Linked DNA regions of Homo sapiens. The protein of the gene in region 3 purifies or fractionates together with the protein of the main gene of each other region. This does not show direct contact. Each region holds a gene or a part of one and is shown on either strand. Other genes may lie near its edges. The genes, in order: AGPAT3, ALG3, GPR52 and FITM2.

What was found.
Region 1: the proteins of GPR52 (region 3) and AGPAT3 purify together in Homo sapiens (affinity purification with mass spectrometry; 3 studies listed by BioGRID and IntAct, with this or other methods). This does not show direct contact.
Region 2: the proteins of GPR52 (region 3) and ALG3 purify together in Homo sapiens (affinity purification with mass spectrometry; 2 studies listed by BioGRID and IntAct, with this or other methods). This does not show direct contact.
Region 4: the proteins of GPR52 (region 3) and FITM2 purify together in Homo sapiens (affinity purification with mass spectrometry; 3 studies listed by BioGRID and IntAct, with this or other methods). This does not show direct contact.

What each region holds. Positions count from the first base shown.
Region 1 is NC_000021.9:43,959,206-43,966,230, forward strand, and holds part of AGPAT3 (1-acyl-sn-glycerol-3-phosphate acyltransferase gamma), read left to right. Parts: intron 1-428; coding exon of another isoform or gene 429-476; coding exon 477-654; intron 655-1,426; exon of another isoform or gene 1,427-1,574; intron 1,575-7,025. UniProt on the Homo sapiens protein: Converts 1-acyl-sn-glycerol-3-phosphate (lysophosphatidic acid or LPA) into 1,2-diacyl-sn-glycerol-3-phosphate (phosphatidic acid or PA) by incorporating an acyl moiety at the sn-2 position of the glycerol backbone.
Region 2 is NC_000003.12:184,245,944-184,253,244, forward strand, and holds the start of ALG3 (dol-P-Man:Man(5)GlcNAc(2)-PP-Dol alpha-1,3-mannosyltransferase), read right to left. Parts: upstream 3,020-7,301; 5' UTR 2,998-3,019; coding exon 2,802-2,997; intron 1-2,801. Other genes in the region: EEF1AKMT4-ECE2 readthrough transcript protein, read left to right, coding at 3,752-3,947; EEF1AKMT4 (EEF1A lysine methyltransferase 4), read left to right, coding at 3,752-3,947. UniProt on the Homo sapiens protein: Dol-P-Man:Man(5)GlcNAc(2)-PP-Dol alpha-1,3-mannosyltransferase that operates in the biosynthetic pathway of dolichol-linked oligosaccharides, the glycan precursors employed in protein asparagine (N)-glycosylation.
Region 3 is NC_000001.11:174,443,680-174,450,049, forward strand, and holds GPR52 (G-protein coupled receptor 52), read left to right. Parts: upstream 1-4,284; 5' UTR 4,285-4,432; coding exon 4,433-5,518; 3' UTR 5,519-5,866; downstream 5,867-6,370.
Region 4 is NC_000020.11:44,308,182-44,315,592, reverse strand, and holds the start of FITM2 (acyl-coenzyme A diphosphatase FITM2), read left to right. Parts: upstream 1-4,390; 5' UTR 4,391-4,444; coding exon 4,445-4,617; intron 4,618-7,411. UniProt on the Homo sapiens protein: Fatty acyl-coenzyme A (CoA) diphosphatase that hydrolyzes fatty acyl-CoA to yield acyl-4'-phosphopantetheine and adenosine 3',5'-bisphosphate.

The DNA.
Region 1 (7,025 bases), on a different chromosome or scaffold from region 3:
TGTGTGGCATGTGGGGTTTGTGATGTGGTGTGTGTGTGGTGTGTGGTTTGCGGTGTGTGTGGCATGTGTGTGGCATGTGTGGGGTTTGTGATGAGCTGTGGTGTGTGGCGTGTGTGTGGTTGTGTGTGTGTGGCGTGTGTGTGGTATGTGTGTGGCATGTGTGGTTTGTGGTGTGTGTGTGACGTGTGGTTTGCAGTGGTGTGTGTGTGGTTTGTGGTGTGTGGCGTGTGTGTGGTTTGCAGTGTGGTGTGTGTGGCATGTGTGTGGTTTGTATGTGTGTGGCACGTGTGTGGGGTTTGCAGTGTGCTGTGCAGCATGTGTGTATAAGCGTGAGGCATGTGCGGGGTGTGCAGTGAGCAGTGCCCCGGTGTTCCTGTGAGGGTGTGGGCGTGGCCACCCTGACGCTGTCCCTGTCCCTGTCTTTGCAGGACGGCTGTCCTCAGCGAGGGGCCGTGCACCCGCTCCTGAGCAGCGCCATGGGCCTGCTGGCCTTCCTGAAGACCCAGTTCGTGCTGCACCTGCTGGTCGGCTTTGTCTTCGTGGTGAGTGGTCTGGTCATCAACTTCGTCCAGCTGTGCACGCTGGCGCTCTGGCCGGTCAGCAAGCAGCTCTACCGCCGCCTCAACTGCCGCCTCGCCTACTCACTCTGGAGCCGTGAGTGTCTGCTGGGCCAGTCCCTGCCGCCTGGGGCTCCCGTGGGGGTGGCGCGCGACCATGCACGGGGCAGCCGTGGGCTCTCAGGCAGGAAGTGAGGGCTATGCAGGAGGTGCCGAGGCCATCTGGCTGGCAGGCTGTCGGAAGGCACCTGGCTACCTCTTTTTCTTAGCTTGAGCTGTGTGACGTGCCACTCTCACCATTCTGACCCATAGCAATGGCAGCTTCCCACGGTTTACCAGAGCATATGGGAATGTTTAAACAAAAGTAAAGAGAATGTTGAGTTCTGTTTACCCGTTACCAAGCTCCAACAGCTCCCTACATGGCCCCTCGTGTGTCCTGCCCACACTGCGCCAACACCAGAGCATGCTGACGCGTATTTCAGCATGCATCCCTGAAAGAAAAGGTGTCCTGCCTCCCTGCGTATCAAACACATGTGTAGCTGTGTGTCTGTCCGTATGTGCCTCTGTGCGTATGTGTATTATACATAGAGAAACCGATCTGTACCTGTCATGTGGACAGAGACTCAGAGGCTTGGTAACAACACCCACTGTGGACAGGTAACCGCTCACACCGGGCGTCGTGGGGACATGAACAGGCGCATCTCTGGAGGGTGGTTTGGCAGTGGCCGTCAACAGTTTAAGTGGTTGCAATTTTCAACTCAGCAATTCCACAGAATAACATGCAACCTACAGAGATGTGCAAAAGTATGCAACTGGACAGGTGTTCTCATTTTATCACAGGTATTCTCATTATTGTATTATTTTTATAGTAGCACAAAACTAGAAGCAACCCAAGCACCTGTCACTGGAGACTAATTATGCGGCACCCATACAGGGACCCTCTGCGGCCATCATGGAGAGCCTTCATCTTGCCCGTACAGTTTTAAGCGAAAAAGGAAGTATACAACAAAGTCCATAGTATGCTATGATTCATTTTGTGTCTTAAGAAAGGATGCTGTGTGTGTGGTGTGTACATGTGTGGAAAAATCCCAGAAGGGGCTGGGCATGGTGGCTCATGCCTGTAATCCCAGCACTTTGAGAGGCTGAGGCAGGTGGATCACCTGAGGTCAGGAGTTCAAGGCCAGCCTGAGCAACATGGTGAAACCCTGTCTCTACTAAAAATACAAAATTAGCTGAGCATGGTGGTACACACCTGTAATCCCAGCTACTCGGGAGGCTGAGGCAGGAGAACTGCTTGAACCTGGGAGGTGGAGGCTGCAGTGAGCTGAGATCACACCACTGCACCACTCCAGCCTGGGCAACAGAGCAAGACTCTGTCTAAAAAAAAAAAAAAAGAAAACAAAAATCTCAGAAGGATGCCCGAGAAAACTGCGTGATGCTGATATCCAGGGAGTGGGGAAAGGAGGGGATTCTTACGTTTTATTTCACACTCTCATGCTGTTTCCATGTTTTTGCATGAGCGCATAGACACTTCGTCTCATATGGGAAACGGTGAGCGCATAGACACTTTGTCTCGTGGGAAACGGTAAGCGCGTAGACACTTTGTCTCACGTGAGAAATGGTGAACCCACATACACTTTGTCTCATATGGGAAACGGTGAGCGCATAGACACTTTGTCTCATGTGGGAAAGGGTGAGCACGTAGACACTTTGTCTCATATGGAAAACAGTGAACGCGTAGACACTTTGTCTCGTGGGAAACGGTGAGCGCGTATACACTTTGTCTCATATGGAAAACAGTGAGCGCGTAGACACTTTGTCTCGTGGGAAATGGTGAACCCACATACACTTTGTCTCATATGGGAAACGGTGAGCGCGTATACGCTTTGTCTCATGTGGGAAATGGTGAGCGCATAGATACTTTGTCTCATGTGGGAAATGGTGAACCCACATACACTTTGTCTCATATGGAAAACGGTGAGCGCGTATACACTTTGTCTCATGTAGGAAATGGTGAGCGCATAGACACTTTGTCTCATATGGGAAATGGCTGGCCTGTAACCTTGTCTGCACGATCTCCTTCCAGTTCAGGAGCCGGTAGCACTGCTGAAAAGGCTGTTTATGTCAGCTAACTTTTCATGCCTGCGACACCCCACTGTCTGCAGAGAGACTAGTAACCCAGCCCTTAGACTAGCTTGTCTTAAATGTGTTATAGCTTCAGTTCCTGGTTTGTTTTTTCTCTTTTTTTTTTTTTTTGAGACTGAGTCTCGCTCTGTTGCCCAGGCTGGAGTGCAGTGGTGCGATCTCGGCTCACTGCAAGCTCTGCCTCCTGGGTTCACGCCATTCTCCTGCCTCAGCCTCCCGAGTAGCTGGGACTACAGGCACCCGCCACCACTCCTGGCTAATTTTTTTTGTATTTTTAGTAGAGACGGGGTTTCACTGTGTTAGCCAGGATGGTTTTGATCTCCTGACCTCGTGATCTGCCCACCTCGGCCTCCGAAAGTGCTGGGATTACAGGCGTGAGCCACCGCGCCCGGCCAGTTTGTTTCCTTTTTTAAATGAAAGGCTGCTGCTTTTTTCTGTGGGAAGGGAGAATTGGAAATCCTATAATATAAAATATACAAATGAGTTATTCATGAGTATAACTGGATAAGATGAATACATACAAAAAGGGCAAATATTAACTGATGAAAACTAAATTACAGACTCCTACTTTCTAGCAGTATTCTGAAGCTAAAATACTACAAAACAGCTAAATCCTGCCTGAAACTGGCTTTTTAATGCATTTCTGGGCTCACAGTAAGGAAACAAAAACCTCTCAGCTCCACCCTTCCACCAAATCCCTTTAGCAAAAACCGGGGTGTGCAGAAATGGAATGTCAGCACTGCCTTTCAGGAGCCTAACCCTTGGGCAGCTGTAGCAGAGGGCGCTGAAGCTAAACCAGGACTCTTGAGCGAGGGCGCGAGACAAGCTAGGGTTAACAGTGACCCTTGGGTTTCAGCAGAGGCAAACGAAAGTACACTCTGGAGAAAGTCTCATTCAGGCCTGAAGAATCCCACAGATTAAGGAAAATTAAATATGAATTCATAATCAAGAATGACAACGTAAACAGCAGATGTGGACTGAAGATGACCCACTGTGCCCCGACTTGAAAGAGAACCAAGTAGAACTGCTCTCAGTGAGAACTGTAGATATTTTAAAGCAAAAACTTACAGACAGGTTTTGTATCAGATTAGATACAGTTAATGAGAATGGGTACAGAACCAAGTAGAACTGCTCTCAGTGAAAACTGTAGATATTTTAAAGCAAAACCGTATGGATGGATTTTGTATCAGATTAGACACAGTTAATGAGAGAATGGGTACACCAGACATCAATGTGAAGAAATCATCCAGTGACAGTAAAGGAGGTGAAAAATGTGAAATAGGCGTGAAAAGATGTAAGGACAGAATGAGAACCTTCATAAAATAGGGCTTTGGCCCCCATCCCCAAAGGAGAGAACAGGAGAAGCCTCCTGGGAAGAGAGGATGCCTGAGGACCTCCTGAACTGATGAAGGCACGATTTTTCAGATACAGGAAGCACATGTAGACCAAGCAGAGCGAATGCACAGAAATCCACACCTAGGCAGGCCCTGGGGCATCACAGACCATCAGAGACAAGGAGGAGCCGGGCGCGGTGGCTCACGCCTCTAATCCCAGCATTCCAGGAAGCTGAGGCAGGAGGATCCCCTGAGGTCAGGAGTTTGAGACCAGCCTGGCCAACATGGTGAAACCCCATCTCTACTAAAAATATAAAAATTAGCTGGGCCTGGTGGCACATGTCTAATCCCAGCTACTGGGGTGGCTGAGGCAGGGGAATCATTTGAACCTGGTCGGTGGAGGTTGCAGTGAGCCGAGACTGCATCACTGCACTCCAGCCTGGGTGACAGAGTGAGACTCTGTCTCAAAAAAAAAAAAAAAAAAAAAAAGATAAGGAAGTCTTCGAATCCCCGGAGAGGAAAGCTGGAGAACCACGCTGGATGGTCAGCAGTGAGGCCGACAGCAGATTTCTTACGGCAGGCAGCAGTGGCGGGAGAAGGTGGAAGATCCTCAATGTGCTGGAAAATCACCAACCTAGCACCCTGTGTTGTTCAAGAGTACAAATAAAATAAAAAGGTTTTGGTAAACAAAAAAATGAGAGCTTTTACTGCCCATAGATCTTCACTTCAATATTTTTTAAGGATGTGTTTCAGTAAGAACAAAAATTATAAAAGTAGGGTATAATTTTCAAGAAAGAATGGTAGCCAAAGAAATTAGGAGATGGATGAATCTAAACCGTATGTAAAATAAAAACAGTGCTCAGCCGGGCGCAGTGGGTCACGCCTGTAATCCCAGCACTTTGGGAGGCCAAGGTGGGCGGATCACCTGAGGTCAGGAGTTCAAGACCAGCCTGGTCAACATGGTGAAACCCCATCTCTACTAAAAATACAAAAATTAGCCTGGCATGGTGGTGGGCACCTGTGATCCCAGCTCCTCAGGAGGCAGAGGCAGGAGAATCGCTTGACCCTGGGAGGTGGAGGTTGCAGTGAGGTGAGACTGCACCACGCTCAGCTAATTTTTTGTTTTGTATTTTTATTAGAGATGGGGTTTCACCATGTTGCCCAGACTGGTCTCAAACTCCTGACCTCAGGTGATCCGCCCACCTCGGCCTCCCAAAGTGCTGGGATTACAGGCGGGAGCGCCCAGCCCAGGTTCAGATTTTAATGGTAACTTTGTTAAGTATAGGGTAGGAAAAAAGAGAGATCAAACATAGCTTCCAAAGTATTAGAAAAAGATAAAGAAAAAAAGGTAAATCTCTTTTGTTAATGCAAGAAAGTAGAAAGAAAAGCATTAAAATAAGAAATATTGAGGTATACATTAAGATCAATATAAAATTCCCAGATACTTGGGATGACCACAAATACACAAGAAAAGCACTTCAGTAAGAACAGAAATAATCGGCCTCTCCATCTGCTGGGCTTGCGTGGGTATGTGAATTCCGTCTGTGACTTGTTGGATTTGGGATGTTCTCCACTTAGATTTATTTCCATGAATATGTTTGTGGGAGCCTTTCTGCAGTCAGAGGTATGTGGAAGCCTTTGCCAGTTCAGGGGCGCATGGTGAGAGCAGACCTCACAGTGGGTTTGTTTATGTTTGTTTGTTTTTGAGACAGGGTCTTGCTCTGTCGCCCAGGCTGGAGTGCAGTGGTGTGATCTTGGCTCACTGCAATCTCTGCCTCCTGGGCTCAAGCAGTCCTCCTACCTCAGCCTCCTTGAGTAGCTGAGACCACAGGTGTGCACCATCATGCCCAGCTAATTTTTGTATTTTTTGTAGAGACAGGGTTTTGCCATGTTGCCCAGACTGGTCTCCAACTCCTAGGCTCATGTGATCCTCCTGCCTCAGCCTGCTGGGCTGCTGGGATTACAGGCTGAGCCACCGCACCAGCCACAGTGTTTTCTGATGACCCTGAACCACGGTTTTATTTTCAATTCTTCATTCCTGTTCTCATTCCTTAATGCTGGGTGCCTTCTTGCTGCCCATTTTGAACTCACTGCCAGTGTGTCTCTGCTGTCATCTGATGTGCAGAGCTATAGGTGCTGCGGCGAAGGGTGCAGGTTTGGAGCCGTTTAAACAACCTGGCCCAGCCTCCTCACTCCCTGCTGACCTTGGTCAAGGCTTCAGTCTCTAAACCTCAGCTTTCTCATCTGCAGAGCACAGACAAAACCACCTGCCTTTGAGCTGTCTTATAAAGCCTAAATCAATGCGCACAGCAGGTACACAGCAATGCTTGATAAATTGTTACTATTATTGGGTGAATTTTAGGTTTTTTTTGTTGTTGTTGTTGTTTTGAGACAGAGTCTCTCTGTTGTCCTGGCTGGAGCACAGCAGTGCGATCTTGGCTCACTGCAACCTCCATCTTCTGAGGTTCAAGTGATTCTCGTGCCCCAGCCTCCCAAGTAGCTGGGATTACAGGTGCCTGCCACCACATCCAGCTAATTTTTTTTATTTTTAAGTAGAGATGGGCTTTTGCCATGCTTCCCCAGCTGGTCTTGAACTCCTGGCCTCAAGTGATCCTCCTGTCTCGGCCTCCCAAAGTGCTGGGATTACAGGCTTGAGCCACCGCACCCGTCCAGAATTTTAGATTTTTTTAAATCCGTGGTTGAAAAATAGGCTATGGCTGGCTTACTCATTGTGCTTTAGGGAAGCATGTATTTGAGTGAAGGAAATGATAAAAGGAATTTCATATCGGGCCCAGGCGCCGCCCACCCTGCAAGACAGTTTACAGATGCCTGCCCTGACAGCTGTCTGCAGTTAGCCAGCGTCAGCCGAGGGGTCCTGAGATCCGCTGAAGGCTGCCTTTGCATGCCGACAGCAAGGGAAAAGTGCCACATGTCCCTGGGCTTGCCACAGGTGACCTTTGGATGGGACCATTCTCCAGACAGCGCAGCT
Region 2 (7,301 bases), on a different chromosome or scaffold from region 3:
TTTATCTGACATTCTCTGGGTGAGCCCAGGCATCTCAAACTCAACATTTCTATAAGTGAATTTGTGATCTTTCTTCCCATTCCAATCTACTCCTTTTCCTGGGTTCCGCAAATGGCACCACCGACCTCTTAGCTACCAGGTCACGAACCTGAGTAACATCTTTGATACTCCCTCCTCTCTCATTTGCAACCCTTCGTCAACAAGTTCTGCCTGTTCCTCACCGTAAATATCTCTATCTCATCCTTCTCTGCTACTACATACTCAAATTTGAGCCTAAAGTAATCTCTAGCCCCAATGAGTATACAATAGCCTGCTAATTAGGCTCCTGACTTCTACTTTCACCCTGCTACAATATATTTTCCACCTCGTACACCAAAGAGCTCCTCCTAAAATACAAATCATAACAGGCCTCTGCTTAAAACCTCTCAATGATTCCCCAAGACCCTTAAGATAAAGAAAACTCTGTATTATTCCCATTTTTTGAAGGGGAGCCTAAGAATTAATTAGGTTAAGTGACTGGCTTAAGATAATTGAGCTAGGATGGTGGAGTTGGGATTGAAGCTTGCAGGGTCCCAAGTTCTTAATTATCATGCTATCTTCTTAACAAAGCTTTCAAATTCCTTCATGATCTGGCCTCAGTTTCTGCATTCCCATCTCTTACTACTCCCTTCACTTGATTTCTACACTCTAGCTCTAAAAAAATCATTTCAGTTCCTCAAAGGAACCAGGCTGTCTTCTTTTTTTTTTTTTTTTGACAGAGTCTCACTCTGTCACCCAGACTGGAGTGCAGTGGTACGATCTCAGCTCACTGCAACCTCCGCCTCCCGGGTTCAAGTGATTCTCCTGCCTCAGTCTCCCGAGTAGCTGGGACTACAGGTGTGTGCCACCATGCTTGGCTAATTTTTTAAGTTTTGTATTTTTAGTAGAGATGGGGTTTCACCGTGTTGGCCAGGCTGGTTTGTTTGTTTGTTTTTCTTTTGAGACAGGGTCTCGCTCAGCCACCCAGGCTGGAGTGCAGTGGTGCGATCTCAGCTCACTGCAACCACCATCTCCCCGGTTCGAGCCATTTTCCCATCTCAGCCTCCCAAGTAGCTGGGATTACAGGCACTTGCCATCATGCCCAGCTAATTTTTCTATTTTAGTAGAGACAGGGTGTCAACATATTGGCCAGGCTGGTGTTGAACTCCTGACCTCAGGTGATCTGCCCGCCTCGGGCTCCCAAAGTGCTAGAATTACAGGCATAAGCCACCGTGCCCAGCCAGGCTGGTCTTTAACTCCTGCCCCCAAGTGATCCGCCCACCTCAGCCTCCCAAAGTGCTGGGATTACAGGCATGAGCCACCGTGCCCAGTCTAACTGAATTTTTTTTTTTTTTGACACGGAGCTTGCTCTGTCACCCAGGCTGGAGTACAGTGGCGCAATCTCGGCTCACTGCAACCTCCACCTCCCGGGTTCAAGCAATTCTCCTGTCTCAACCTCCCGAGTAGCTGGGATTACAGGCATATGCCACCACGCCCAGCTAATTTTTGTATTTTTAGTAGAGACAGGATTTCATCATGTTGGCCAGGCTGGTCTCAAATTCCTGACCTCAGGAGATCCACCCGCCTAGGCCTACCAAAGTGCTGGGATTACAGGCGTGTGCCGCTGCGCCCAGCCTAGCTGGAGATTTTTAATAGAGGATCCTCTGTCCACAGCACTCCTTCCCCTCACCTTTTTCTTCTTTCCTTAAATAGCTAATTCCTACCTTCCAAGGGTGGCTCTATGAAGCCTTTGCTGACTCCTCCAACCTGGTTTAAGTGACTTCCTATGCCCTTTATGGTATCCTGTGTTACTACTACCATGATTATGATGCATTATAATTGCCTGCTAACTTACTGTCCAGGCCCGAGTTAGAAATGCATCCTTTTTCTTTTTTTTTTTTTGAGACGGAGTCTTGCTCTGTCGCCCAGGCTGGAGTGCAGTGGCGTGATCTCGGCTCACTGAAAGCTCTGCCTCCCGGGTTCACGCCATTCTCCTGCCTCAGCCTCCCGAGTAGCTGGGACTACAGGCGCCCGCCACCATGCCCGGCTAAATTCTTTTTTTTTTTTTTTTTTCAGTAGAGACGGGGTTTCACCGTGTTAGCCAGGATGGCCTCGATCTCCTGACCTCGTGATCCGCCCGCCTCGGCCTCCCAAAGTGCTGGGATTACAGGCGTGAGCCACCGCGCCCGGCAGAAATGCATCTCTTATTCACCACTGTACCTCTCTCTGGTAACCAGCATAATGCTAGGCATATAATAAGCACTAAATAAATATTTGTTGAATTAAGAGTCTTTAGCAAGAAAGCCAAGTGCCTTAAGCCTAGAGTATAGTTTCAGCCTGGAAAGGAGTAGCCAATAATGCCTAATGGACTCAAGTGGTCACAAGATGCCATCATTGAGAAGGGACGTTCAAAGATCACAGAACTGAACACATGGAAAAAGCTGAGATCCAGGAGGAGACCTGAGGTGTCCAAAGCCACAGAGAAAAGCAGCAGCAGCAGCAGTACAACAATTTTGGCTCAAATCTGACTTCTAAGCTGGTTTGCAGGCTGTAAGTTCAGTGCAGAAGGCCAATCTCTAGGGTATCCACCTCTGCCATGCGGGCAGATTAAGATCCGGTTTTCTGTAGAGCAGGCTTGGCGCTCAGGTAAGGGATATGGATGGGTTCGCAATTGACGAGTGAGTGGATACAGAGTCTGGTTTGGAGTTCCAGGTCTGAGATCCAGTTTGGGTCGCGGGTTCAGGTCTCCCTCCCTCCCCTCCCCTCCCCCTCGGCGCACTCACATGCCACCCTGTGAATGACCCAGAAGGTGATGCCCACCTCCGCCAGGCAGAGGCAGGCGGCCACCAGCAGCGTGTAGCGCGGCTCCCGCAGCAGCAGGCGCCGCTCTTGCCAGGCGCGCTGCAGCCATTGCTTGCAGAGTCCCTCTGCCTGGGCCGCGGAACCGGACCGGCCGCGTTTCCGCAGCCCAGCCGCCATCTTAACGGTGCGCCGCTTGTGTGGGCCCACCACCCCCGGAAACCCGAACCTTCGACACTTAGGTTCCGCTTCCCGTGCCTGGCGTCCCACCAGGCTAAGCGCCGATCCGAGTAGCCAGTCTTCATTTACTCCACTAAAATGTAATTTTTCTGCATTTGTCTCCTCTGATGCACTCCACGCTCCATAGGAGCAGGGACAATGTCTTACTCCTCAGTTTATACCCAGCCCTGGGTACACAGGCGCTAATTTAGAACGAATGTCCAGAAAAGCAACATTCCTGCCTACCTCCCCCACAACCGCTGAAGCCAGCATTCTCCTTCGCCTGCGCTGGGAACATCTGTGTTCATGCTGTCTCTCCAGGAGGGCAAAGCCCCTGTTCGCGCCCCTCCTGCCTGCCCTTCGAGCCTTCCGGATGCTGAGAAAAATGAACCTTTCACTAATTTTCAGATTTCCTGATAAAAGTCATTCATATTGAAAATATGAGAGGACGCAGTGATGAGCCCACGTGAGTCTGACACCTTGAGTGCGGCCCTAGGAAATGACTTGGCAGTACAGCCGGAGGATTCAGGGTCTGGACGATAGTTTTCCCAGCCGGAGGATTCTTCGAAGAGCGCTTAGTAAAGGACGGAAGTTCCACGTGTTTGTGTTGAGCAACTGCAGGTGGTGGGCGGAGACACCAGCGCCCCGCCTTCTGCATCCTGCCTTCCGTATTGGCTGAAGGGCCGGCGGCTCTGGCTGCCCGGCGGTTGAGAGCATGGCCTCTCCAGGGGCAGGTAGGGCGCCTCCGGAGTTACCGGAGCGGAACTGCGGGTACCGCGAAGTCGAGTACTGGGATCAGCGCTACCAAGGCGCAGCCGATTCTGCCCCCTACGATTGGTTCGGGGACTTCTCCTCCTTCCGTGCCCTCCTAGAGCCGGAGCTGCGGCCCGAGGACCGTATCCTTGTGCTAGGTGGGTAATCCCGGCGCGGCCCCGCCAGGTAGAGCTGGCAGGACCGGCGCCGCATGGGCTTGGCCTGGTCCGCTTTCCTCCCGCCTGTCTATCCCTCTTGGAGGACGCCTGCGTTGGGACGCGAGATCCAGCTCCTTCAGAGTCCCGGCTGTATTTAGTCAAGGCTAACAGGAGTAAGAGATTGTTGGTCCCGGGGCCCTCTGGAGAAAGACAGTCCCTCAGAGTTTGAGCGTTGGGGGTACCCAAGACCCTGTCCGGACCCTCGGGAGGCAGGCAGCCTTGGGGACCGGATTGCTCAGAGGACCGAGATCAAGTCCTAGCGCTAATTGACTTGTAAAACTTAGGACAAGTCATGAACCCGTTCTGAGCTTTAGATTCAGTTCTAGAAATGGTACTGCGAGTTCACATCGGAGGCGGCACGCGCAGGCACCTCGAGAATAATGCCCAGCGCTTTTCTTTTTGCCCCTGGGCACTGGGAGCCAGAGTCACCTAGAGAGAGTCCTGTCTGAAACTTGGTCCTATGCCTTAGAGAGTGAGAACAGCACCCTCTAGGGGTGGAGGGGAGATTGCCGCCCAGGGTGATACGATTCCCCAAAGGGAGACGTGCTGGAGGAAAGGTAGGGCTCTGGGGTGTTCGGCTGACCTCTTGAGGTTCTCTCCTAGTGTCAGCCTTGGAGGCGCTAGTAAAGTTTGAATGAGCAACAGATTTTCTTCCAATTGTCGTTTTTACTTTGCTCTTTGTAAAAGCCTTTGTATGTTTAAGTGAAGTCTTTAATAAATAAAAAAGGTATATGTAATATATATGTAAGGTATAAATAACAAATCTAATGTGTGTGTCTATTCCACTCAGTTTGAGAAATAGAACATTACTAGGGATAGAAAAAAAAGTATAATTTAGTGGTTAATAACTTGGCTGGGCGCGGTGGCTCACGCCATTAATCCCAGCACTTTGGGAGGCCAAGGCGGGCGGATCACCTGAGGTCGGGAGTTCGAGATCAGCCTGACCAACATGGAGAAACCCCATCTCTACTAAAAATACAAAAAATTAGTCGGGTGTGGTGGCGCATGCCTATAATCCCAACTACTTGGGAGGCTGAGGCAGGAAAATCGCTTGAACCAGGGAGGCGGAGGTTGTGGTGAGCCAAGATCATGCCATTGCACTCCAGCCTGTGCAAGAAGAGCAAAACTCTGTCTCAAAAAAAAAAAAAAAAAAAGAAAAGAACTTGGACTCTGGGCTGGCCTCATGATTCATGCTCATAATCCCAGCACTTTGGGAGGCCAAGGTGGAAGGATCACTTGATCGCAGGAGCTCAAGACCAGCCTGGGCAACATAGTGAGATCCCATCTCTACAAAAAATTTAGGCCAGAGCAGTGGCTTATGCTTGTAATCACAACACTTTGGGAGACCAAGGCGGGTGGATCATTTGAGGTCAGGAGTTCAAGACAAGCCTGGCCAACATGGTGAAACCCCGTCTCTACTAAAAATACAAAAATCAGCCAGGTGTGGTGGCACGTGCCTGTAATCCCAGGTACTTGGGAGGCTGAGGCAGGAGAATCACTTGAGCCCAGGAGGTGGAGGTTGCAGTGAGCTGAGATTGCACCACTCCACTCCAGCCTGGGTGACAGAGTAAGACCCTGTCTCAAAAAAAAAAAAAATTAAAACTTAGCTGGGCATGGTGGCCTGTGCCCATAGTCCGAGTTACTCAAGAGGCTGAGGCAGGAGGATCGTTTGAGCCAGGAGATCCAGGCTGCAGTGAGCTGTGATGGCTCCAATGGGCTCCAGCCTAGGCGACAGAATGAGACCCTGTCTCAAAACAAAGCAAAACAAAAAACAAACAAACAAAAAACCACCTTGGACTCCAGAGGCAGTGAATTATGTTGGAATCTTGGCTCGGCTTATACTGGCTGTGTAATCCTGGACAAAATACTTGAATTTCTGTGCTTCCATTTTCTCAACCTTAAAAACATAAGCATATTTATTAATTGGGCTTTAAGTTGATTAAATGAGCATGAAGGATACCTAGAACAATGCCTGGCAAAATGAAAAGTATATTCAAGGTTCTCTGTGTGGTCCTCCTAAAACCCCTTCTCCCCACAAGTAAACACTTTCTTGAATCTGTGATTTTAAACCATTGCACTTATTTATAGATTTACCTTAGATCTGTTTTCTCAAGCTTTAGTGTGTATCAAAATTACCTGGGGAACTAGACTGCACTGTGAGATTCTAATTCCAGGGATGGTCTAATGTGGGTCTCAGGAATCTGTATGTTCAACAAGCTTCACAGCAGATTCTTATGCTGGTGATTGGCAGAGTAACACTGCCTTAAAATCTGCTTGACTGGTTTTTCACCAAACTGATGCTTTAAAAAAAATCTGCTTAACTGGGAACTATCCTTTTCTGGATAGGAGGGGCAAGAAGTCTAAAAATCAAAAGGGGAATTTCTAGAATCCCCAAGATGTAAGAACAGGACCCACAACTTGGGAAATACTCTACGTTACATTCCACCTCAACAGACTTAAGTTGAGTGCCTGATAAGAGCCAGAGAATGTGCTGGGCCCTTTCTAACTTACTTAATCCTTATGACAACCCCTGAAGACAAGTCAAAAGTACTAAGAGACTTACTCCAGGTTAGGGGTCTGTAAACTTTGTTTGAAAATGGCCAAACAAGTAAATTTTTTAGGCTTTGCAGGCTACACAGTCTCTTTTACAATGACTTGGTTCCGCTATTGTAGTGGAAAAGCAGCTACAGACAATACAAAAGTGAATGATGGCCGGGCAGGGTGGCTCACGCCTGTAATCCCACCACTTTGGGAGGCCGAGGCGGGCGGGTCACCTGAGGTCAGGAGTTCGAGAGCAGCCTGGCCAGCATGGTGAAACCCCGTCTCTACTAAAAACATAAAAATCAGCCAGGTGTGGTGGCAGGCACCTGTAATCCCAGCTACTCCAGAGGCTGAGGCAAGAGAATTAATTGCTTGAACCAGGGAGGCGGAGGTTGCAGTGAGCCAAGATTTCACCACTGCACTCCAGCCTGGGTGACAGGGTGAAACTCCATCTCAAAAAAAAAAAAAAAAAAAAAAAAAGTGAATGAGAATAGCCATGTTTCAATATAACTTTATCTAACAAAATAGGTGGCAAGCTGCATTTGGCAACCCCTGCACTCATTGTCTTAGATTGAGTTCCCCAGAAGCAAATCCTGAGATGAGGATTCATGTCCAAGTTACTTGTCAAGAATGTGCTCCCAGGAGAATTGGTAAGAGCTAGAGGGAACAGAGAAAGGGAAGAAGCAAAGTTTCCCTGAAGGTAGTTTCAGCCTGAAGAGTCACAGATGTACACCATTAGAAGCAAACACACAC
Region 3 (6,370 bases):
GCTTAATATCATCCTGTTTGTCTATTTTTGTTTTGTTGCCTGTGCTTTTGAGGTCTTACTCAAGTAGTCTTTGCCAAAACCAATGTCCTGAAGCATTTCCCAGTGTTTTCTTGTATTAGCTGCATAGTTTCAGGTCTTACCTTTAAGTTTTTAATCAACTTTGACTTGATTTTTGTATATGGTGAGAGATAGGAGTCTAGTTTTATTTTTCTGCATATGGATATCCAGTTTTTCCAGCAGCATTGATGGAAGACACTGTCTTTTCAACAGTGTATTTTCTTGGTGCCTTTCCTGAATTTAGGTTGACTATAAATGTGTAGATTTATTTCTGGTTTCTCTGTTCTATTCCATTGGTCTATGTGTTTTTATGCCAATATCATGCTGTTTTGGTTACTATAACTTTGTAGTGTATTTGGAGTCAGGTAGAGTGATGCCTCTAGCTTTGTTCTTTTTTCTTAGGATTGCCTTAGCTATTCAGGGTCTTTTGTAGTTCCATACAAATTTTAGGTTTTTTTTTTCTATTTATTTGAATGTCATTGGTATTTTGAAAGGGATTACATTAAATCTGTATGTTGCTTTGGGTGATATTGTCCTTTTAACAATATTAATTCTTCCAATCCATGAACATGGCATATCTTTTTAATGTGTTGTTTGGTTTGCTAGTATTTTGTTAAGGATTTTTGCATCTATGTTTCTCAGGGATATTGGCCTCCTATAATTTTTTTTGTTGTATGTGTCCATGTCTGCTTTTGGTATCAAGATAGTGCTGGCCTCACAGAATGAGTTTGGAAGTATTCTCTCCTCTTAACTTTTTAAGAATAGTTTGAGTGGAGTTGGTATTAGTTCTTCTTTAAGTGTTTGGTAGAATTCAGCAGTGAAGCCATCAAGTTCTGGGCATGTCTTTGATGGGAGACTTTTTATTATTGCTTCAATCTCTTTACTCATTATTAGTCTGTTCAGATTTTCTATTTCTTCATGGTTCAATCTTGGTAGATTGTATGTGTCCAGGAATTTAGCCATTTTTTCTAGGTTTTCCAGTTTGTTGGCATATATATTTTTCACAAGTCTCCAATGATCCTTTGTATTTCTGTGGAGTCAATTGTAATGTCTTTTCATCTTTGATTTTATTTATTTGAGTCTTCTTTCTTTTTTGCTTAGTCTAGCTAAGGGTTTGTTGATTTTGTTTATCTTTTCAAAAAATCAAGTTTTTGTTTTGTTGATCTTTTTATGTTTTTTAGGACTTTTAAGAATAATAATAACCTATTTCGGTCCCATTTTCACAAGTCTGTGATTATAGGCAAGTTATACTTACTATCTCTACTATCTGCTTTCTTCATTTGGAAAATGATAATGATGATACCTACTTCATAGAGTTTTAAGATTTTTATAAAGGAAAAGTATATAATGCACACAGCACAATGCTTGGCATATAGAAAATACTCAACAAATGTTAGTTATCTTCCATTTTTATCTTAATTTTCCTGGTGTATTTTAATTCTGACATAATTTGTAAATTAGTTCTAAGTCACTTTTAAGAAAAATGCTGATCCCCTAAGAAGTTTAAAATAGTGAATGTTTGTCTGTAGTAAGTCAAAATAATCAGAAATGTTTTAATGTCCATCAAATATTTGATTAAATTAATTTGCATTGTTCTAATTTAGGTATGTGTAGCTCAAGCACTTAGAACAAATTTCTTTGACCATTTGACCTTTTTTTTCATATTAGGATAAAAAGTGGATAAGCAATGTTTTTATTTATTCTAATTTCTATGCTCTTTTGAGATCATATTTGACCTTCAGTATTGCTCTGAATAGATTTTGGTACAGTAGTGTTAGTTCTATTGCTTTGTTTGTACAGTTAAATACATCAAACTCAGCAATTTTTTGTGGGGGTGATGGGGATTGGAGAGATTAGTAAATGATTTCTAAGTTCTGTTAATTAAAATGTAACTATATATTTTAGAGAGAAGTTAGTAGTCATATCACTTTAGTTCATGAAGACTTGGCAAATTTTTAATAATTAATAAGTTTTTTCTGCCAATGAGCATTAGATTACTGCTGACTTTTTAGTGTCATAGTACCTTGTGGTAGTTTCTTTACAGGGTTTACAGGAGTATGGCAGTTTATTTTTTCTGTCTTGTCCATACGAAATAATCTTTACAAATGCTATAAGGAGAATACCTTGAGAAGTTCATAAATGCCTTAATATATTATAAAGATCGGTCAGTTCCATTGTCTTCTTTTGTCAGTCTTGATCGGAGCTTGCCGAGTAAGTCTATAAGCCTGCATGTGCCTGGCAACTGTTACCTAGTGACAGTTTCAGCTGCAGTAGCCATTGGCTGTGCTGTTGATTGGGGCAGGAGGGCCGAGTCACCTTTCTGATGGTGAGTTTTTCTGCATCAGCCCAGGATGAGGAGGAGGAGTAGGGCTTGGGCTCAGGTGGAGTCATTGATGCTGAGAGATTGTGAAGAATATACTGACAGCATCCTTGTAGCTGCATCACAGTAAATCGGACTTCTGAATCAAGCAGCCCAGCCTAGCAGCTGATAAGAGTGAATGTAGGTGAGAAGCATTACCTTATTCCTGTAACAAGAGAACTGTTTTGTGATAAGTGAAACTAGGAATGTAGAAGAAGAAATATCCTATGGCTATTATAAAAGAAGAAGGACTTGCCTGAATGACTTGGTGGTGCACCAGAAAATAACTTTCAGAAGAATGCTTTCTGTTAAGCTGCTGCATTGTTCCTGGAGGAAATGTTATTTCTAATGCATGTTATTTCTTCAAAAGATAGGATAACAAAGAATGACAGGAGACTCTCTGAAATGACTTCACTTTTAAAAAATACTTTGGCAAATGTTAACCTGATATCAAAATGACCTTGGAAGCATTTTGGATGGATTCTATCCTGGCAGCCTTGCAATGTTTCAAACTCTAGGATTTAAAGTTCATCTTGATACTTTAGAGGTATTTTAAAATAAGACTATCTTGCAACCTACCTAATGGCCCCTGTGTTAATTGAGCACTTGCTCAAAATAGAGTACAGAAAAATAGAAGAGGCATTTTTTAACATATGGCTGCTACATAACTGCAAATGTAATAAACAAGGTAATTTTCCACTTTCAGAAGATATAGTTGAAGTAATGATTTAATGTGTTAAATCATCTACTGAAAATAGAAAAGGTATAGCAACATAGAACATGAAGCCTATTAGAAATACCTAAGTAATAAATAATGGCAGCATTTCTGGTCAAATAAGCTCGGAGTATATTGGAAAGTTTTATTGTCTAACTTTATATTTACATATATATGTGAGATATGGGTATACAGTTGCAAAGGTGAGAAATAACTGTGAGCTACATATTTTATTATCATGCTCCATTATAAGGAAGGTGGTATATGAAATAACAAATGTTATTTTAAGTTATAGATGCCAAATTAATAGCAAAAATAATTCATTTTGAAAAGGAAGAGGTATAAGTTACGTTGCTGTTAGTACCACCAGTAACTGTAATGGATTAAAACTGCTTTCATCTAAATGCTTTAAAAATGCATGCAGAATTAAAACTTCAGAAGTTTATTACATTTTGCCAGGTGTTAATTCATTAATTCATTGTATATTCTCTTTTCTATTGGAAAATACTTTTTTCTCATGAGAGTTATAGGGCAATCTGGAGTCTGTTTGTTACCTCTATTCTGCCCATGTAGAGATGAATCTTTTCAAATTAACTTTGATAGAGTTGTTTTTCTTAGATTTTAGAAAAATGAGAAATAGGTTATAAATTTGACCCCCCAACATCAATCCCTGAACTAAGCCCAAAGACACTCTTTGCCACAATGAACTTTTTCTTAGCTTTTCAACCAAATTTGAGATCTTAAATTATTTAAAATCTAAAATATGAATGCATTTTTCATCATAGATAAAGCAGGAAGCCTGAGACAGTTTCAGAGTTTTTCTTTTCTCATTCTTTCCAGTTGCTCCCTAAGAAACTGCCTCTCTTAGGAGAACAGCCCACAGAAGCTTTTCTTCCTTTGGCAATTCATTTTTTTTCTTTTTACAGATTTAATTTTTCATAGTGCAAGATAATAAGAAGTCTATTTTCTCTAGAAGTGCCTTATGTCTGCAAAAAGTTCTTTGAGGGCACCAGAGGAAACTAATTAGTGACCTCTTTTCACCTCCTTTCTAGCTTATCCCCTTCTCTCCACCCCTTACCGCCCCCCCCCCACCCCCCCGCCCGAAAGCTGAGGTGTGTCACTGCTGAACTGAGGCTGGTGAAGAGACTTGAGCACTCTCTGGGACTCTCAGCTGTGACAGAAGCACTGACACTGTCTACTGAAGCAGGTTCTGAAACACTCATGTGCGGTGTTTAACAGATGCTGGGCAGGGCATCTGCTTGCTGTAGCCAAGTCTGCAGGTGTCTTTAAATTTCCAAGCCATGAATGAATCCAGGTGGACTGAATGGAGGATCCTGAACATGAGCAGTGGCATTGTGAATGTGTCCGAGCGTCACTCCTGCCCACTTGGATTTGGCCACTACAGTGTGGTGGATGTCTGCATCTTCGAGACAGTGGTTATTGTGTTGCTGACATTTCTGATCATTGCTGGGAATCTAACAGTTATCTTTGTCTTTCATTGTGCTCCACTGTTACATCATTATACTACCAGCTATTTCATTCAGACGATGGCATATGCTGATCTTTTCGTTGGAGTTAGCTGCTTGGTTCCTACTCTGTCACTTCTCCACTACTCCACAGGTGTCCACGAGTCATTGACTTGCCAGGTTTTTGGATATATCATCTCAGTTCTAAAAAGTGTTTCTATGGCATGTCTTGCTTGCATCAGTGTGGATCGTTATCTTGCAATAACCAAGCCTCTTTCCTACAATCAACTGGTCACCCCTTGTCGCTTGAGAATTTGCATTATTTTGATCTGGATCTACTCCTGCCTAATTTTCTTGCCTTCCTTTTTTGGCTGGGGGAAACCTGGTTACCATGGTGACATTTTTGAATGGTGTGCCACGTCTTGGCTCACCAGTGCCTATTTTACTGGCTTTATTGTTTGTTTACTTTATGCTCCTGCTGCCTTTGTTGTCTGCTTCACTTACTTCCACATTTTCAAAATTTGCCGTCAGCACACCAAAGAGATAAATGACCGAAGAGCCCGATTCCCTAGTCATGAGGTAGATTCTTCCAGAGAGACTGGACACAGCCCTGACCGTCGCTACGCCATGGTTTTGTTTAGGATAACCAGTGTATTTTATATGCTGTGGCTCCCCTATATAATTTACTTTCTTCTAGAAAGCTCCCGGGTCTTGGACAATCCAACTCTGTCCTTCTTAACAACCTGGCTTGCAATAAGTAATAGTTTTTGTAACTGTGTAATATACAGCCTCTCCAACAGCGTTTTCCGGCTAGGCCTCCGAAGACTGTCTGAGACAATGTGCACATCCTGTATGTGTGTGAAGGATCAGGAAGCACAAGAACCCAAACCTAGGAAACGGGCTAATTCTTGCTCCATTTGAAGAGAGCTACATAGTAAATCAAATGTAATCTGACAGTGGTTTTGGATCATATTCTAGATTCATCTGGAAATTTGCCATCAGAGAAATATTTACTTGAATAGTTGACTGTAAAATGAAGTATGAGACTAAAGGTTTCTCTCTTTTTTTTTCTTTTTCATGGAAGAAACTAAAGGGAAGGATGTATAGAGGGTTAGCTCATGAAATAATTATAGCATGTGAGTATTAGTGTGCAGTAATAGGAAAAATTAAGCACTGAGATGAAAAAGAATATCTCAAATCTTCTGCAGGACATGAGCAAGCCCCTTGGCTCAGCATTTCTGTCTTTCTGTCTGACTGTACCCTGCCTCTGTCTTTCTCATTTTGTCTATGTTTCTCTCACTCTTTGTGGAAGTTATTACTTACATAAACTGCCCTTTGTAGAAAAGTGCTACATATTATATATGTGGTAAAGTATAATCTTTTGCATCAAAGTGTACCTTTAATCACACTAATCTATAATCCATAAGTGATCTCTTCATGGAGGATGCACAGTAAGCATTGCATTTTATTATTTGCCAAACAACCCCTTTGCTTGTGTTTTTATAATGTTCTCTGCAGCACAGTTTTTCTGCTATAAACAAATAGAAACAGTATTTTTGTTTCTTCTGGGTAAAATGACATTTGCTTTTCCCTGGTTTCCTAACAGTCTCCTGTTTTTTTTCTCTCTTTTTCTTGATCTGCATCCATTGGTACCTTACTTTAGAAGTGTCTTAGCTATTGAAAGAATCTACTGTATAGAGCATCCATGATGTTAAATAATGTATTTCTTCCAGCAAAGCAATCTGGTAGCTTATTAAATATTTTTAATGGCTT
Region 4 (7,411 bases), on a different chromosome or scaffold from region 3:
TTTCTTAATGTGTAGCACATTATTTACAAATAATAAAATATATGGCCAGGCTTGGTGGCTTACACCTGTAATCCCAGCACTTTAGGAGGTTGAGATGTGCAGATTGCTTGAGCCCAGGAGTTTGAGACCAGCCTGGGCAACATGGCAAAACCACATCTGTACCAAAAAATGTACAAAAATTAGCTAGAGGTGATGGCTGATTTAGTCCGCCTGTAGTCCCAGCTACTCGGGATGCTGAGGTGGGAGGATCACTTGAGCCCAGGAGATTAAGGCTGCAGTGAGCCATAATCACACCACTGCACTCCAGCCTGGGCAACAGAGTGAGAACTTGTCTTAAAAAAAAAAAAAAGAAAGAAAGAAAAGAAATATATAAATACTCTTTGTTATAACTATAGCTAATTGATTCTCACAGAATGCTTTTATTGATTTTTGTTGGATTCTTGTAACCATAGGCAACCTGTGGTTTCAATTCAACCATGTTTTGACAAATGGAGTTGACTCTCAATGTAGACAAACCAAATAAATCCCTGATTTGTAGCACCTGCCAATTTCCATAGTGTAAATACTCCCCCTGTGGCTGATTTCAAGCTCTCAATGTGACATCACTGAATAGATTTGGGAAGAGTTGTGCAGGAGCTTACCATACAGGAACAATAGATGTAAGTTACCCCAAGAGCATAGATAATAATAAAACATAGTAAAATAATTAGTAACTAATGAGTTTTGAGTATTTTCAGTTTGTTTTTTTATATATGTAACTTTTTTTTTTTTTGAGAGAGGATTTTGCTCTGTTACTCAGGCTGGAGAGCAGTGGCATGATCACAGCTTACTGCAGCCTCAGTCTCCTGGGCTCAAGCCATCCTCCCACCTCAGCCTCCTGAGTAGCTGGGACTGCAGGCACACACCACCATGTTTGGCTAATTTTCGTATTTTTTGTAGAGATGGGATCTCCCTATGTTACCCAGGCTGGTCTGGAACTCCTGGGCTTAAGCGATTCACCTGTCTTGGCCTCCCAAAGTGCTGGGATTACAGGGGTGAGCCAACAGGCCCAGGCCCTATAATGCAGTTCTTAATATGGCTGTGTTTGACAATCACCCCGCAAAAGTTCTGAAAATTTAATCATCAGCTCTTGCAGGCTGGTATGAGTTGACTACAGCACATCATTTCACTCACAACATAAATATGTATTTCCCAATACTGATTCAATTTTTTTTTAAATACAAAAACTTCTCTAGAGACCTGCAACAATTTTTTCAGGTTGAGTTTAACCCAGTCTTCAAAAATCTCCAGCCATGGTGGCCAAGCGTGGTGGCTCATGCCTGTAATCCCAGCACTTTGGATGCTGAGGCAGGAGGATTGCTTGAGGCCAGGAGTTCAAGGCTACAGTGAGCTATGATCGCACCACTGCCCTCCAGCCTGGGAGTGCAGAGCAAGATCCTGTCTCAAAAAAAAAAAAAAAAAGAAAAAGAAAAAAAGAAAAGAGAAAATGGAAGGAAGGAAGGAAGGGAGGGAGGGAAAGAAAACTCTCCAGGAATGAAACTGCAGTTTCAAAGGAAACAAACCCATTTCCTTTCTCAAAAATACAAATCCTGAACCTTTCAGAAGGTACTCTTTGGACAGTCCCTCGGGGTGATATTTAGTGTTTATATTCACCGAGCAGTCTTTCCCTCCTTCTTGGGTTGGGGGACGTATCTGGATTTTCTTTGGAGGAACCACACAGCTAATAAGGAGGAGAACCGGCACTCAAACCCAGCATCCCTGCTCTTAATTCTTATGCTGTTTGCTAAGGAAAGCCACAGTAATTGAGCACCTGACAAACTCAAGGAGACAGAGATGGTATCAGATACTATTTACAAGCTGCCTTCATAAATAACCCCTTTCTGGCTATGTAGTTTTTATTCCCAATCATGAAATGCCAAATTGGTATAATTATCACTATATTTTATTTTTTAAACCAAGCATTCTGAAGGCCTGGAAGCATCTTGCTATATAAGAACTCTAATCAGATAAATGCAATTTACAGATATGAAGGTCATCTTAAGATGGTTTTAAGGAATTATTATTTTCATTAATTTGTTGATTCTCTGCATGAGACTATAAACATTAGTCCATTGTAGGCATAAATCAGGCTAACATTTCCCAGTGTGGTAGCTGTCCTTGGTATAGAGACACAAAATTATTTTGGGCAGCTAGTGATGATGAATATTTCGATAGAAATTTTTCTTTGGGCCGGGTGTGGTGGCTCACGCCTGTAATCCCAGCACTTTGAGAGGCAGAGGCAGGAAGATCACTTGAGGCTAGGAGTTGGAGACCAGCCTGGTCAACATGGCGAAACCCTGTCTAAAAATACAAAAAAATTAGCCAGGTGTGGTGGCATGTGCCTGTAGTCCCAGCTGCTTGGGAGGGTGAGGCAGGAGACTACCTTGAACCCGGGAGGCAGAGGTTACAGTGAGCCAAGATCAAAATAGCTTGGCCTCCCAAAGTGCTGGGATTACAGGCGTGAGCCACCACGTCTGGCCTAAAATGCCCATCTCTTGATATGACTATATATGTGTGTATTGGCTGGGTTTGTGGCTTTTGGAATAAACTTCTGTTGTTTAAAACAAGTTTAGGGTTGGGCACGGTGGCTCGCACCTGTAATCCTAGCACTTTGGGAGGCCGAGGCAGGAGGATCACTGGAGCCCAGGCGTTCGAGATCAACCTGGGCAACATAGTGAGACCCCATCTCTATTTAAAACTAAAGAAAAAAAAAGGAATAAAAATAAACTGAGTTTATAGTAATTTATTAGAGCTGCCACAGGAAACTAACATTGGGGTAAGGGAATGAGTCCAAGGTTGGGAACTGAAATAGACACCCAGCCCTAACCAGGGGTGAGGGGTTAGTTTTGTGATAAACTGAGCAACTGAGTCTCCAACAACTTCATGTGATCTCCCCATTAACCCCCAGCATCCAGCATTTTCATCCAACAGGCATAGATAGCTGTTTTGTGTTTCTTTGTGTGCTTTTTAAGACGGTCTCGCTCCGTGGCCCAGGCTGGAGTGCAATGGGACCATCACAGCTCACTGCAACCTCAAATTCCTGGGCTCAAGCAATCCTCCCACCTCAGCCTCCTGAGTAGCTGGGACCACAGGCCTGAGCCACCAAGTCAGCTAGTTTTTAAAATTATTTCTTATAGATACTGAGTCTCACTGTGTTGCCCAGGTGAAAATAAATTTAGAAATTTAAACTTTAAATGTAATAATTGCACCAGGTGAGATGGCTCACTCCTGTAATCTCAGCACTTTGGGAGGTGAAGGCTGGCAGATCACTTGAGGTTAAGATTTGGAGAGGTCAGATCACTTGAGGACAGGAGTTGGTCAGCCTGGCCGACATGGTGAAACCCCATCTCTACTAAAAATACAAAAATTAGCTGGGTGTGGTGGTGCGTGCCTGTAATCCCAGCTACTCGGGAGGCTGAGGCAGGAGAATCGCTTGAACCTGGGAGGCAGAGGCCTGCAGTGAGCTGAGATCGCGCCACTGCATTCCAGCCTGGGCAACAGAGCGAGACTATGTCTCTAAATAAATTAATTATATTAATTAATTAATTTAATAACTGCAGAGCGTGGTGGCTCACACTTGTAATTGCAGCATTTTAGGAAGCCGAGGCAGGAGGATCGCTTGAGCCCAGGAGTTTGAGACCAGCCTCGACAACGAAGCAAAACCCTGTCTCTACAGAAATAAAAATAAAAAAAATTAGCCAGGTGTGGTGGTGCCCGCCTGTGGTCCCAGCTACTCGGGAGGCTGAGGTGGGAGTATTGCTTGAGACCAGAAATTTGAGGTTGCGGTGAGCTGCGACGGTGCCATTGCACTCCAGCCTGGGCGACAGAGAGGGACCCCCCCCCAACTAACTAATAAATAAATAAATACAATAATTATTCCTAAGGAAACTTCATCTCATGTCCCTCTACGTGTGCCAACGTAATGAACCCCTGAGCTCATAAACTAGCTTTTGGGAAAGGTTGATCTCCTCTTGTCTCTCGCATTTTACAGATGAGAAAACTAAGACTCAGATGGCAGAGGTGTCTCCGAGGCTCCAAGAAAGATCAAATGATGCTGTGACTACTGCTCCAATTCTCCAGGGCTACATTTATCCTCTTCCAGCCTCCAGCAAATACTTTCACAAGCGCTTTTTCCCAGACCAGAGCAAGACGCGGAGGCTCGGGGAGAGGAGGCGGCCAGGAGAGCGCAGAGGAGACGAGCGAGTTCGGGGACCGTCACGCGCCAGAGGCAGCAGCGGCCACGAGGGGGAGCGCGCGGGCTCCGGAGCCCAAGCACGCCTCAAGCTGTGGGACTCGCGGGCAGTGCGCATGCGCTCGAAGGGAGGTGGAGGCGCAGGTCCGGGCGAAGGGCGATACGGTGGCCGAGAGGGCACGGAGAGGAGGACGGTGGCTGACGAGATCCGGCATGGAGCATCTGGAGCGCTGCGAGTGGTTGTTGCGGGGGACGCTGGTGCGGGCGGCCGTGCGGCGCTACCTGCCCTGGGCCCTGGTGGCCTCCATGCTGGCGGGCTCCCTCCTCAAGGAGTTGTCCCCGTTGCCCGAGAGCTACCTCAGCAACAAGCGCAACGTCCTCAACGTGTGAGTGCACCCCGGTCCTCCGCTGTCCCCGCCCGAGCCGGCCCGCTGTCGCCTCGCCCAGAGAAGCCGGTGCTAGCTGCCGTGGTGGACGAGTCATTGGAGGGGAGGTCCTCCTCCTAGCCGTGACAGCAGCATCTGCACGCGTGTCACGCCTGGGAGGCCCCGGGGTAGCTGGTGTCACTAGCAGTTAGTGTTTGCAGACCCACTTTGGGCAGCATGAGCTTGACTGGGCAGGTGGTGACAAGCGGGGTCGTGTGTGTCTCTGTATATGTAGGGGTGTGGAATGGGGTGGGGATGAACCAGCCCCTGTCACCACTCCCCCGCCTCCCCTTGGAGTTAGGAGCTGACCCCTGCCCTGTTTGGGAGATGCCATCTCACCTCTGTCCTGCCTGCCTGTGGCAGACCCCGCGCAGACCCCACCCTGCGTCAGATCAGATCCCTCCAGCGCGTGACAGAATCCCTTTACGACCTGTGGAAGAGCCTCGCCCCAGCCTGTGACAGGCAGAGCCCCCGCCTGTGAGATACTCACAGAGGGCTGGAACCCCCTAGTCTGTGCCCTTTCCCCTGGATCTCCTTGGATCATCTCAGCCACTCAGAATGCATGGCAGTGGCCCAGAAAAGCAATCCCAGCTGGGCGCTTTGAGACATCTCCTTAACTCCACCCATCCACTCCTTTGCTTGCTTACTTGCTTTTTTCAAAACTCCCGGTTAGTAAGTTTATTGCACAAAAACTCTGTTGCGGTCATAAAGGGAAACTCTGAAAGATAAAACTGCTCCCTTGATGTGAGCCTAAGTGTTTTCCAGAATAAGTGTCTCTGGCGTGTCCTGAAAGTCAGCCCAACTTTGGTTATCTGCTTAAAACCCTGGTTCCTTTCACAGGCAGCTTCCTCAAATGCCTGACGGGTCTTGGCTCTGGCAAGATCTTCCTTATCAGTCCCAGTGAAGATTTTAGTGACAGGCCTGGGGGTGGTGCCTGAGAATCCATTGGAACCTAGAAAAAAGTCCTTCTGTCCTTGGTCCACCTTCCTTCCTCACCCACCCTGAGAGGCTGGGCTAAGAATAGATCATGAGAGTGGTAGTGGCCCCAAGTCTCTGTCCTGGGTTTAGGTCAGCCACCTTTCGTGAACGCTGGGGAGGCGGACAAGGCAGCTGCTGCTTCCTCTGGCCTAGGTGAGCTGGGAGCCAAGTGGCCTGGCTGACAACACACCCCTGTTGTTTGAAGGTAGTCATGGATCCTGGAGTTTTGTTCCAAGCCTCTGTGCTGATTAATGAGAGGGAACTAGTGAATCCTGGGATATAGAAGGGACCTTAAAAATCATTTGGTCCTCTCAGCTCTGTTTGATAGCTGAAGAAACTGAGGCCTGGAAAGGTAGGAGGTATAGTAAGTTAAGTAAGAGTGAAGATTTGAACCCGTAAGAGTGAAGATTTGAACCCCGGTCTTTTGGCTTAAAGTAAGACCTTGTTGCAAGACTGTTTCTGCCGTTAGGAAAGAACCAGGCTGGGCGCAGTGGCTCACACCTGTAATCCAGGCACTTTGGGAGGCCAAGGCAGGTGGATCACTTGAGGTCAGGAGTTCAAGACCAGCCTGGCCAACGTGGTGAAACCCCATCTCTACTAAAAATACAAAAATTAGCCTGGCGTGGTGGTGCGTGCCTGTAATTCCAACTACTGAGGAGGCTGAGGCAAGAGAATCACTTGAACCTGGGAGGCGGAGGTTGCAGTGAGCTGAGATCATGCCACTGCATTCCAGCCTGGATGGCAGAGTGAGACTTTGTCTCAAAATAAATAAATAAATAAAAATAAAAATACAAAAATTAGCCGAGTGTGGTGGTAGGTGCCTGTAATCCCAGCTACTCCGGAGGCTGAGGCAGGAGAATTGCTTGAACCCGGGAGGCGGAGGTTGCAGTGAGCCGAGATCGTGCCACTGCACTCCTGGGTAATAAGAGTGAAAACTCTGTCTCAAAAAAAAAAAAATCATTTGGTCCCCCCAGCTCTGTTTAATAGCTGAAGAAACTGAGGGCTGGAGAGGTAGGAGGTATAATAAGTTAAGTCAGAGTCAAGAGTTGAACCCGTGTCTTTGGCTTAAAGTAAAGCTCATTGTTGTAAGACTGTTTCTGCCATTAGGAAAGAACCAGGCCAGGTGCATGGCTCATATCTATAATCCCAGCACTTTGGGAGGCTGAGGCAGGATAATTGCTTGAGGCCTGGAGTTCAAGACCAGTGGGGGCAACATAGCAAGGCCCCATCTCCACAAAAATAATAATTAAAAAAAATTAGCCAGGCACATTGGTACACACCTGTAATCCCAGCTATTTGTGAGGCTGAGGCAGGAGGATTGCTTGAGCCCAGGAGTTTGAGGCTGCAGTGAGGTGTGATTGTGCCACTGCACGCAAGCCTGGGGGACAGAGTGAGATCCTGTCTCAGAAAAATAAAAATAAAAAATAAAAAACCACATATGGTATGGGAGAAACAGCATGAGTCTGGGGGCTATCCAAACCGTGGTTTAATCTGTTCATGCTGGTTGTGTGAGTGTGACCCTGGCAAGGTACTGAACTTTTCTGAGCCTTAGATTTCTTGTCTATAAAATGGAACAATGGCACCTTCCTCCCAGGGTAAATGTGAGTGCTCTATGGGAAAGTGAATGTGTGTGAAAGCTCCTGGCATTTGGTAAATGCTCAGTTATTATTATTTATTTATATTATTTTCCTAAGTAAATAACATAGTGCTTAAGACGACAGATCCTGGATTTGAATCCTGGCTCCTCCGCTTCTGGCCTCCACTTTTGGTGTGGCAC